Homo sapiens: one gene and its partners. The protein of the gene in region 3 purifies or fractionates together with the protein of the main gene of each other region. This does not show direct contact. Each region holds a gene or a part of one and is shown on either strand. Other genes may lie near its edges. The genes, in order: LUZP1, ZC3H15 and PPIP5K2.

Region 1 (2,823 bases), on a different chromosome or scaffold from region 3:
TGAGAAAATCCACCCTGGCATCTGGGCTCCTGATCAGCTGATGGAGCTCCTGATTTGACAAAGGAGCTTGCCTCCTTTGAATGACCTAGAGCACAGGGAGGAACTTGTCCATTAGTTTGGAATTGTGTTCTTCGTAAAGACTGAGGCAAGCAAGTGCTGTGAAATAACATCATCTTAGTCCCTTGGTGTGTGGGGTTTTTGTTTTTTTTTTATATTTTGAGAATAAAACTTCATATAAAATTGGCCCTCTCTTTTGTTCCTTTGAGTTGGAGTTACATACAAGATGGGGGCATTACTCCTTTGGAAATGCCAAGTTTATCCTATGGCAATAGTAATACATGTTTTCTCCATGTTTAAATAAGGAAGAAGATGTTCATATAAAAGAGAAAAATGGTTTGATCAGGTCAGAAGATAAGGTAGGGGGGCCGGTCCTGTAGAAGCAGTGGACTTCCTGGTCAGTCGGACTAGGCTTCCTCACTTGGGTGGGGGTGGAGTGTGGTGGTGTGCCAAGAACATGGTTATTAGGAAACTTTGGATGCACTTTCAAGATAGAACACAAAAGAGCTGAAACAAAGTCTGAGCCTTTGGGAGACCAGTCTGCCTTTATTCCTGATTCCCTCCATGGGTATGTGCTAAAACTTCCCAATTCTACTAAAGGTGGTGGTGTACATTTTGGGAAGCGCACTACATAGGATCAAGGGCTTAGGTAACAGCTGGTTTAACAGATTGCCACAAACTTAGTGGCTCTTAAAAAAACAGAAATCTATTCGAAAGTTCTGGAAGCTTAAAGTCTAAAATGGGTACACAGGGCTGCATTCATTACAGAGGCTCTCAGAGCAGGGAGGATCAGTTCATTTCCTTGCTCTTTTCAGCTTCTAGGTGTGGGAAGGCTCGTGGCTCCTTCCTCCATCCTCAGAGCACATAACTCCAGTTTCTGCTTCCATCATCACATTGCCTTCTCCTGTAGTCAAATCTTTTGTCTCTCTCTTAAAAGGATACTACCTGTGATTACATTTAAGGCCCACCTGGATCATCTAGGATGTTCTGCCTCATCCCAGCATCCTTATCTGCAAAGTCCCTTTTGCCATATAAGATGATAAAAACATGTTACATGCTGGTTCCTTCCCAGGGGCTCCTGACTGACTGACAGATAGATGATAAACACTGTTACTGCAAATCCAAGTAATGTCCCTTAAATGTGGTTTTATTCTTTCTTACTGTGAGTTAAGGGACATCATTATATATATTGGTGATCTGACTGGAAGATGAAAACGGAGAAGGCTTTTCCCCCCCTAGTCTTAGAATTCGTGGCAGTAATGGAAAGAATCTGCACACCAGGATCAGGGCAGTTAATGTTTCCAGTCCTTGCAGTATCAGTAATTGGTTAGGTAAAATACCCAATTTTAAGTATTACACAATGAAATAAATAAATATACTAGAGCTGCGCCAACGCATAGAAGACAGATGATACACAGGGATGACATTGACAAAACTGGCATCACAGACTCGCACAGAGTATACGGAAACGAGGGAGCTTTATTGGTTACATATTGTACTGCAGAGCCAACAGAGAGCATTCGCGCCAGAGGATACATGCAGACAGGCAGCTCCAATGATACACATGCACCCAAGGAGCCCTGAGCCACTGCTTTGCCCTGGTTTCCAGCGACAGGTTCTGGCCTCCTTGGTCCCATGCTTGGAGCTGCTGCACCTAGACTCTAAGGGGCAGGGGTGAGAGAGACCAGAGCACCTGCCTGAGCAAGTAGGTGTGGACCAACAGGCTGCCCCCAACAAAGGGGCCTATAATGCAATAACAGTTTATTTGAGGGCTACTTTCTTAGCCCTCTCAATCTTTAAAATACAAAAAAATAGACTTTATTCTCTTAAAAATACATTCCATTCAGTATATGTTCTGAGCTGGGAAGCAGCAGGAAAATAGGGCCCCTTTCCTATGATCCTATGGTTGTGAGGCTTTGAGGAGAACCCTGCTCCCCACTCGGGGTATTCAAAAAATAATCCCTAAAAGCAGCTCTTTCCAAAGCAATCTTGTCAGAGAAATAACAAAACCTCATAACAAGGTAGCCAGGGACCCAGCCTCTGGGTCCCCATTCCTTTATTGGGAAGTGGTAGCACTTGGCACTGACCCACTAAATATAAAGAACTAAAACTGCCCCAGGACGACAAGTCCAAGAACACTATAGTGCCCCCTGCATCCCGAACACTCCACTGACGGGGGTTATTTATGTGCAAGCTTGCCTACAGCTGAGGGTGGGGTGGCATCCTTGGCCCCACTGCAGATCCCTTTAACCCACACTGTGACTCTTTCTCATTGCCACCCAAAAGCAAAAAACAGCCACAGCTTCTTTATCCACCTGCAGCTTTCTCTGGTTTAGTATCAGAGTGGCAAAAAAAGCAGCAGCACGTGGAAGAGATCAGCTGCTGGTACTAAGCCAGCTTCACTTCCTCCAACCAAGCAGCTCTATTGCCAGGTCCCCCAACTCACTAGGAACCCTCCAACAACCATACACCTGCCAGTAAAATTTAAGAGCCAAGCTGCGGAAGAAAACTGTCATAAAAGTGGGTTTGTTGACCGGGGGCAGTGGGACTATTTGGCTTGATTAAACAACTATTCAACTACCAGGTCTCCCCTCTACTTGGAGGCTTCCTCCAGGACCCCTGATGATGAGGCCTGGGTCCAAACAGTCACACCTCAGTTGCTTTTCAGAAACATGCCTCCCAACTTTGGGATTTGAGAGCCAGCCTTGCCAGCCATTTGAAGCCCAGAGAAACAGCCTCCAGCCTTTACTTGCTATTACAATGTTA
Region 2 (3,659 bases), on a different chromosome or scaffold from region 3:
TCTTCTGTGAAAACAACCCACTCCCCAGAAACGTACAGGTTCATTTTGAAGATGAGACAAGCAAACATCCTGAAATGTACAGTCCCACATGATAATGAATTATACCACCCCAAAAACCTATATAGTGCCCTCATGGAAAAACACTGGGTTAGGTCAATGTAGGATATTAAACAAAACAATTCAAAACAAAACATGACATATAACATAGTTCCAGGCACACGATTTACATACCTAATATGATTAGAGGATTCATCCAAACATTTATACGTCAGGTCCTATGTTAGATGACAGAGAATACAATGAAAAGACAAAGATGCTTATTTAAAGAAGCTCAGAATCTAGCAGGATGACAGACATGTCAACAACTGTAACATAGTACATAGTGCTCTGGGAACAAAGAATGCCCATATACCTGAGAAAACTAAATTGAGCCAATAACCTTATGGATGAGTTTTTCTTGATGGGCAAGAAAAGAAATACAGAAAGAGCCAGCCAATGCAAAGTTACAGGGACTAGAGGAATAAAGTATGAGAAACATCAGTAAGATGCTTAGATTGCATCAGTAGCTTGAACAGAGTTCTCTCAACTGTTTAAAGTAACCCAATAACAAGGTCAGGTCACATTTTATAAAATATCAAGAGGGCAAGTTTTGTAGAGGATGGATTGGGAATCCAAGAATAAAGGCAAGAGGCTGCTGCAACTGCTGTACACAATAAAACACAAGAGCTTAAAATGAGCATTACTGGTAAGGATGGAGAAAAGGAGACAGAGCTGATAGGACTGACTGAACATGAAGTATAAAGGGGGAGGAATCTAGGATTATCATGTATATGGTTAGTGCCGTTAAACAAGACAGGGAATACAGGAGGAACAGGTTTCAGGGTAAGAGGTGAAGATGAGCTTAGTTTTAGACATACAGAGTGCAAGATGCTTACAAAGCATCTGGGTAGAGCTCTTTTGAAGGCAGATAGACATGCATATTGATTCCACTGAAATCAGAGAGGGTCTGCTTTGAGATAAAGACTTTAGAAATAGCAGCTTACAGGTAACAATTAAAACTTTGGGTATATGGTACTTAAGGAGAGCATAAAAAAGTGGCAAGAGTAAAGGACACTTCCTTGAAGAAAATCAACATAAAATGGGACAAAAGAACCTAAAAAGTCCAATAAAAAGACCTAGAAACATCAAAGAAGCAGGTAGAAAACCAGGACAAAATGTGTTCAAGAAAGAGGAAATTTTAGGAAAGGAATGGCCAAATGCTATAATTAGGTCAAAGACATCCCAAATCCTGAATATGACTCTATATGGTGGATGTGTTTAAACACAAAAAATGTTTTGAAAGAAAAAATTTAAGTCGCTTAATTTTTAATAGAAGTATCCTTTGCTCATCAGGCCCATCTCAAACATTTGTGGGGCAATGTTTGAGCAAGAATACAATGGAGGTCTACAAGCCATTTATCTAAATATTTAAAATTAGAAATCAAGTTCATGATGAATAAAATATGGTCTGTAACCCTACTCGACAAATATACCTTATGACCTGGAAGGACAGGTTCAAATTTAAAATGCTCAGACTCCATGGAGTTCCACACTGAAGCATGGCAGCAACACAAGAGTTAGCCCTGGGCTCTTTTTTCTCCTCTTCCCACCCCGTTTCATTCCATTTTGGGTGTAGGGGGAGGTAAAGGTGCAAGAAGGAAGGAAAGGGTATGGATGCAGGCTCTGTTCAAACCCTTAGCGTACACTGTTCTCTTGGCTACCTCAGACATATTGGTAGCACAATGGACAGAGATGGGCATGGTGGAGAGGCCTTTGTAGGCAGATAAACCAGGGTCAGAATGTTGTAGGAAGAGATGTTGCAAAATCTGGGTGGGTACATCCCCTTGGCTTCAGTGACTCCTTACCTGAGGGGAGACAGCAGTCTGGAGAAGACACATGTATCGCAGGGCCTAGACCAGGATACCCCCTGTCCAGCTCTAAGAGCAGCACTACTGCTCATTTCCGATGTTATATATGATGGGTAGGTACCCCATGTTCACAGATAAGTCCAGTTATCCACGCAAGTATCAAAAATATAGTATTAAATATACTATCAAAGCTAACTACCAGCACACACATTTCATAACTTTCCCAGGTTTATGAATTCTGATATCACCACTCAAAACACTTTCCACTAGAAGAAAAAGTTGGGGAAGAGAAAGCAGGATTGAAAAAGGGGCTAAGTGAAGAAAGTGAGTTCTTCTTACATATTGATATCTATATTCACCAGAAAATTTACATTATTTTCTTATTTAACCACCAGAAGAATCCAACAAAGAATAACTGCACTTCCACAGTACAGATAAAGACCAGGGTTGCTATTTAAGGATCATGTAACAAAAAAGATAGGAAGATTCACACCCAAGTCTATCTCACTGCAAGGTCTCAGCTGATCTGCCCGCCCCGGCCTCCCAAAGTGCTGGGATTACAGGCGTGAGCTCTAAACATTAATTTTTATTAAACCGGGCTATTAAGTTAGCAGTTTGGAAGAGCAATAGTTTTAGATTCTAGAATCAAGCTGGGAAAATGGATGTGAAAGGAAAGTGTTGGGTCACTGATTTGCAGACAGCATGAGCAAGAGAAATTTACTTATCTCACAAATACATATTAGCAGATTTTTAAAAAATCTGTAAACACATGAGAAATTCTTTCTTCTCTCCTACATTACAAAAATGTGTTTCCAGAAGTTAATGAAAAGGAGATAAAAATGGTGGAAAAATGTACTTTAAAAATAAAGATCCATGTCTATGAAATCTTTACAAGTGAGAGGTCTAAAGAACCTGAAAAAAAAAGGGGCTACATTTTTTTCAAATGAGTTGCCAATGGATAAACTCATTTTAAAATTCGTATGAAAGAATAAATGCCTAAGAACAACCAGGAAAAATAGAAAAGGTATACCATTTTGGGGAAAAGACTTGCCTTGAGACTTTAATGTACAGTCAAGCACAGAATTAATGACATTTAGGTCAATGAGGGACCACATATGACAGTAATCCTGTAAGGTTATAATACCATATTTTTACTCTATCTTTTCTATGTTCAGACACAAATCATTACTAATGTGTTACAACTGCCTACAGTATTCAGTACAGTAACATGCTGTATAAGTTAGAAGCCTTGGATCAATAGGCTATACCATATAGCCTAGGTGTGTAGTAGGCTGTAATATCTAGGTTTGTGTAAGTACACTCTATGATATTTGCACAATGACTAAATCGCCTAACGACACATTTCTCAGATTGTATCCACATCACTAAACAATGTATGACTATGACTGTAGGATAATAGTGGTATTTCAGTTGGATAAATGATGCTGGTGTAAGCAGCTATTCATTTAAAAGAAAACAAACTTAGTCTGGGCATGGTGGCTCACGTGTGTAATCCTAGCACTTTGGGAGGCCAAGGCAGGCGGATTGTGAGGCCACCCTGGGTGACACGGCGAAATCCCGTCTCTACAAAAAATACAAAAATTAGCTAGGTGTGGTGTCATGCGCCTGTAGTCCCAGCTACTTAGGAGGATGAGGCAGGTGGATGGCTTGAACCCAGGAGGCAGAGGCCGCAGTGAGCCAAGATCACACCATTGTATTCCTGCCTGGGCAACAGAGTGAGAACTTTAAGAT
Region 3 (3,659 bases):
CAGACCCACCCTTAATCTGGGTGGGCACCATCTTATCAGCTGCCAGTGCAGCTAGAATATAAGGCAGACAGAAAAAAAAAAAAAAAACGTGAAAAGGCTAGATAGACTAGCTTAGCCTCCCAGCCTGCATCTTTCTCCTGTGCTGGTTGCTTCCTGCTCTTAAACATCAGACTCCCAGTTCTTCAGCTTTGGGACTCGGATTGGCTTCCATGCTCCTCAGCTTGCACATGGCCTATTGTGGGACCTTGTGATCGATCGTGTGACTTAATACTACTTAATAAACTCCCATTTGTAGCTATATCTATCCTATTAGTTCTGTCCCTCTAGAGAACCCTGACTAATACATAGTCTTTTCAATATAATTCTCCCACATTTTTGAAATACTTTACAAAATATGTGTGTAAGTAGAAATCAACTTTCGGGGAAAAAAAAGTATGTATCCAATAGATTTTTTTTTCCCAAGGGTATGAATTAATGACTGGTCTGTCCCCTTTTGTTAACTTATTCAAGTTCTGTTTAAGTCTGTAATGCTGTATGAAGTATATAGATATATGTCCCTCATTTGATTATGACCTTAGGTCTGAAACATGTCTCATTCATTCATTTGGTGAGGGACTAGGTAAATCAACAAATAAATACATGTTAGAAAGACCTCTTTAATAAGGTGACATTTAAATATAAATTTAATTTAAATGAGAAACCAACCATGGGGTTATATGGTGTGAACATTCCAGGTAAGAAACATCAAGTATAAAGCCTCTAAAGCAGAAGTATGCTTGGCATATTTCCCATGTTCATGAAAGAGTAAGGTGGAGCAGAGCAGGCAAGCAAAGGAAAAATGGTAAAAAATCATGTCAGATAAGTAGCTAAGATGCACACAAAGGACTGAGAAGCCATAGTAAGAATTTTCAATTTGTTAAATGTGATTGCACTGCATTTAGGGAAGCTGAGGCAGGCGGATCACTTGAGGCCAGGAGTTCAAGACCAGTCTGGCCAACATGGTGAAACCCCGTCTCTGCTAAAATATAAAAATTAGCCCGGCATGGTGGCATGCGCCTGTAATCCCAGCTACTCAGGAGGCTGGGGCAGGAGAATCACTTGAACCCTGGAGGTGGAGGTTGCAGTAAGCCGGGATTGCACCACTGCACTCCAGCCTGGGCAACAGAGTGAGACTCTGTCTCAAACAAACAAGAAAATAGAAGGAGATGAAATACAGACAAGTTATACAGACAGTTATTTTGAAGAGTTTATAAAAGATGGACAGAGGAATTGGACCTCTAAAGGACATAAAGTGAAGGAAGCCTTTCTTTTTTTTTCTGTTATTCCACTTTAGTATATGAGAGATACTTAGAGATGTCATATAAAAAAAAAAAAACTGAACAGGCTAGTGGTTAAGAGCATGGATTCAGGGGTTAAAATACCTGGGTTTAAAACCTGACTGACTCCAATTAGCTGATCTTGAGCAAGTGAGTTAACTTCTTATGGCCTCAATTTCCTCATCTGTAAATTGTACATAGCTCATAGGTCATTTTAATGATGTTATATGTAAGATAATATACTAAGAGTGCTTGTATCCCAACGTCTAGGCTATACTCCACATCACTTAAATCAAAATGATTGAGAGTAGAGTTCGGGTAATTTTAAGTCTTCCCAGGTAATTCCAATGTGTAGCCAAGTTTGAGAACCAGTTTTTGAAAACAAGTACTATAGGAAATTTCCTATAATAAAAAGGAGATAAAACCGATGAAGCAGAATTTTTGTCTTCTGGTGGTTGGCACATCTCAAGTATCCAATAGATACTCCTCTACAAAACTTGCCTTAACAATTTACAAGACCTTCTCCGAATCATTCGTTTTGACCTTTGGTCACATATAACCTTGTTATTTAACAGCTTGGGTTATGTATATCCCTCCACAACATAAATCTCAAGGGAAGGAACATTTATTAGGCACTGTTACCTAGTAAGTACCTTACTTGTAAATTCAGAGCCTCCCAACATGTTGTCTCACCATAAATGAATTGTAAGTATGCCAAGAAATTAATTGCCTCAGCCTTTAAGGCAGCTGTTATACCCTGGCCAGTTGCTTCCAGTAGCACTCTCTTCAGTTTCCCCAGGATACTGTACAAATACTACCATTTTCTAGGTATGCCTTAATATGAAAAAAGTTGGGAAGAAATTACTTACTACTTTGTGATTTAACAATCTCACAGCCATCCTGGAATTAGAAATATATTCTTCATTTTATAAATGTTTTATGTATGTAGATATGTGTCCATTTTGTCATTATAAATTAAGACTTGAGGTTCAGAAAGTTCAGGTAATTTGATCATCATCACAGAGCCAATAAGGGTTGCAAATGGAAGTCAAACCCAGGTCTGTTTAAACCAAAGGCCATTATACTAAAGAGCAAAAATGAGGACTCCACAGTCCTTATGACAGCATGGCAAATATAAATTCTCAGAAAACTAAAAATATAAAATAAATTCAAATACATTTCTGTCACCTAAGTAGGATATATGTCGTAGTACAAGAGGAGATTTTTTTTTTTTTTTTGAGATGGAGTCTCGCTCTGTCCCCAGGTTGGAGTGCAGTGGCACGATCTCGGCTCACTACAAGCTCCTCCTCCCGGGTTCACACCATTCTCCTGCCTCAGCCTCCCAAGTAGCTGGGACTACAGGCACCCACCACCACACTCAGCTAATTTTTTGTATTTTTAGTAGAGACGGAGTTTCACAGTGTTAGCCAGGATGGTTTCAATCTCCTGACCTCGTGATCCTCCCGCCTCGGCCTCCCAAAGTGCTGGGATTACAGGTGTGAGCCACCGCGCCCGGCCAAGATGAGATTTTATGAGCATCATAAGAGATGCAGGACATTCAAAATGGTTTGTATTATTTCACTTAAAGCGCTGATACTTGAACGAAGTACAGTTTATACATATAGCACTTCCATATTATTTAGCATTTTGATCAATGTTCAGTCATTAATTTCAACATATGCTAACTGTCTGGGCATAAAGATACATACATTATTCAAATATCAGTGTTGAACCTTACTTTATTTTTAGAATTCCTTCTATAGCAGTGGTCCCAAAATGGACTGGTTACATCAGAATTATCTGGTAGACTTGTAAAAACACAAGTTACTGGGCTTATCACAGATTAGGAATTCCTAAACAGTAATTCTTAACTAGAAAAACTGTATTTTTACAAATGGATGAGCAGCCAGGTTTGGGAATCTAACTGTACAAAAGACAAATATCCCTTAAACCTGATTTCTAAATCTGAAATGAGTGTTATGCTACTAAAAATGTCCACACTCAATGCAGTAGTTCTCAAACATTAGCATGCAACAGAATCACCTGTAGGGCTTGTTAATACTAATCTCAAAACTCTGGGGGTGGGGCCCAATATTTTGCCTTTCCAAAAGTTCCAAGGTGATGCTGATGTTGCTCGTCGTCCTGGAATCACACTATGAGAACAATTGCTCTAGACTCAAAACTGGGTTTGAAAACTTTTTCTGCAAGTTGCTCAGCTCTGTGTCCTTAGTCAAGTTATTGAACCTCTCTAGTCATCATCTGTAAAATGGGATTATGAATCTCATATATTGTTTTGACAATTGCAATACAGATGCCACAGCAAATAGCACATATTAAGCACTC

What was found.
Region 1: the proteins of PPIP5K2 (region 3) and LUZP1 purify together in Homo sapiens (affinity purification with mass spectrometry, with the first as the bait; one large-scale study listed by BioGRID). This does not show direct contact.
Region 2: the proteins of PPIP5K2 (region 3) and ZC3H15 fractionate together in Homo sapiens (co-fractionation; one large-scale study listed by BioGRID). This does not show direct contact.

Annotation. Positions count from the first base shown.
Region 1 is NC_000001.11:23,083,447-23,086,269, forward strand, and holds the end of LUZP1 (leucine zipper protein 1), read right to left. Parts: 3' UTR 584-2,823; downstream 1-583.
Region 2 is NC_000002.12:186,496,235-186,499,893, reverse strand, and holds part of ZC3H15 (zinc finger CCCH domain-containing protein 15), read right to left. Parts: intron 1-3,659. UniProt on the Homo sapiens protein: Protects DRG1 from proteolytic degradation. Stimulates DRG1 GTPase activity likely by increasing the affinity for the potassium ions.
Region 3 is NC_000005.10:103,123,174-103,126,832, reverse strand, and holds part of PPIP5K2 (inositol hexakisphosphate and diphosphoinositol-pentakisphosphate kinase 2), read right to left. Parts: intron 1-3,659. UniProt on the Homo sapiens protein: Bifunctional inositol kinase that acts in concert with the IP6K kinases IP6K1, IP6K2 and IP6K3 to synthesize the diphosphate group-containing inositol pyrophosphates diphosphoinositol pentakisphosphate, PP-InsP5, and bis-diphosphoinositol tetrakisphosphate, (PP)2-InsP4.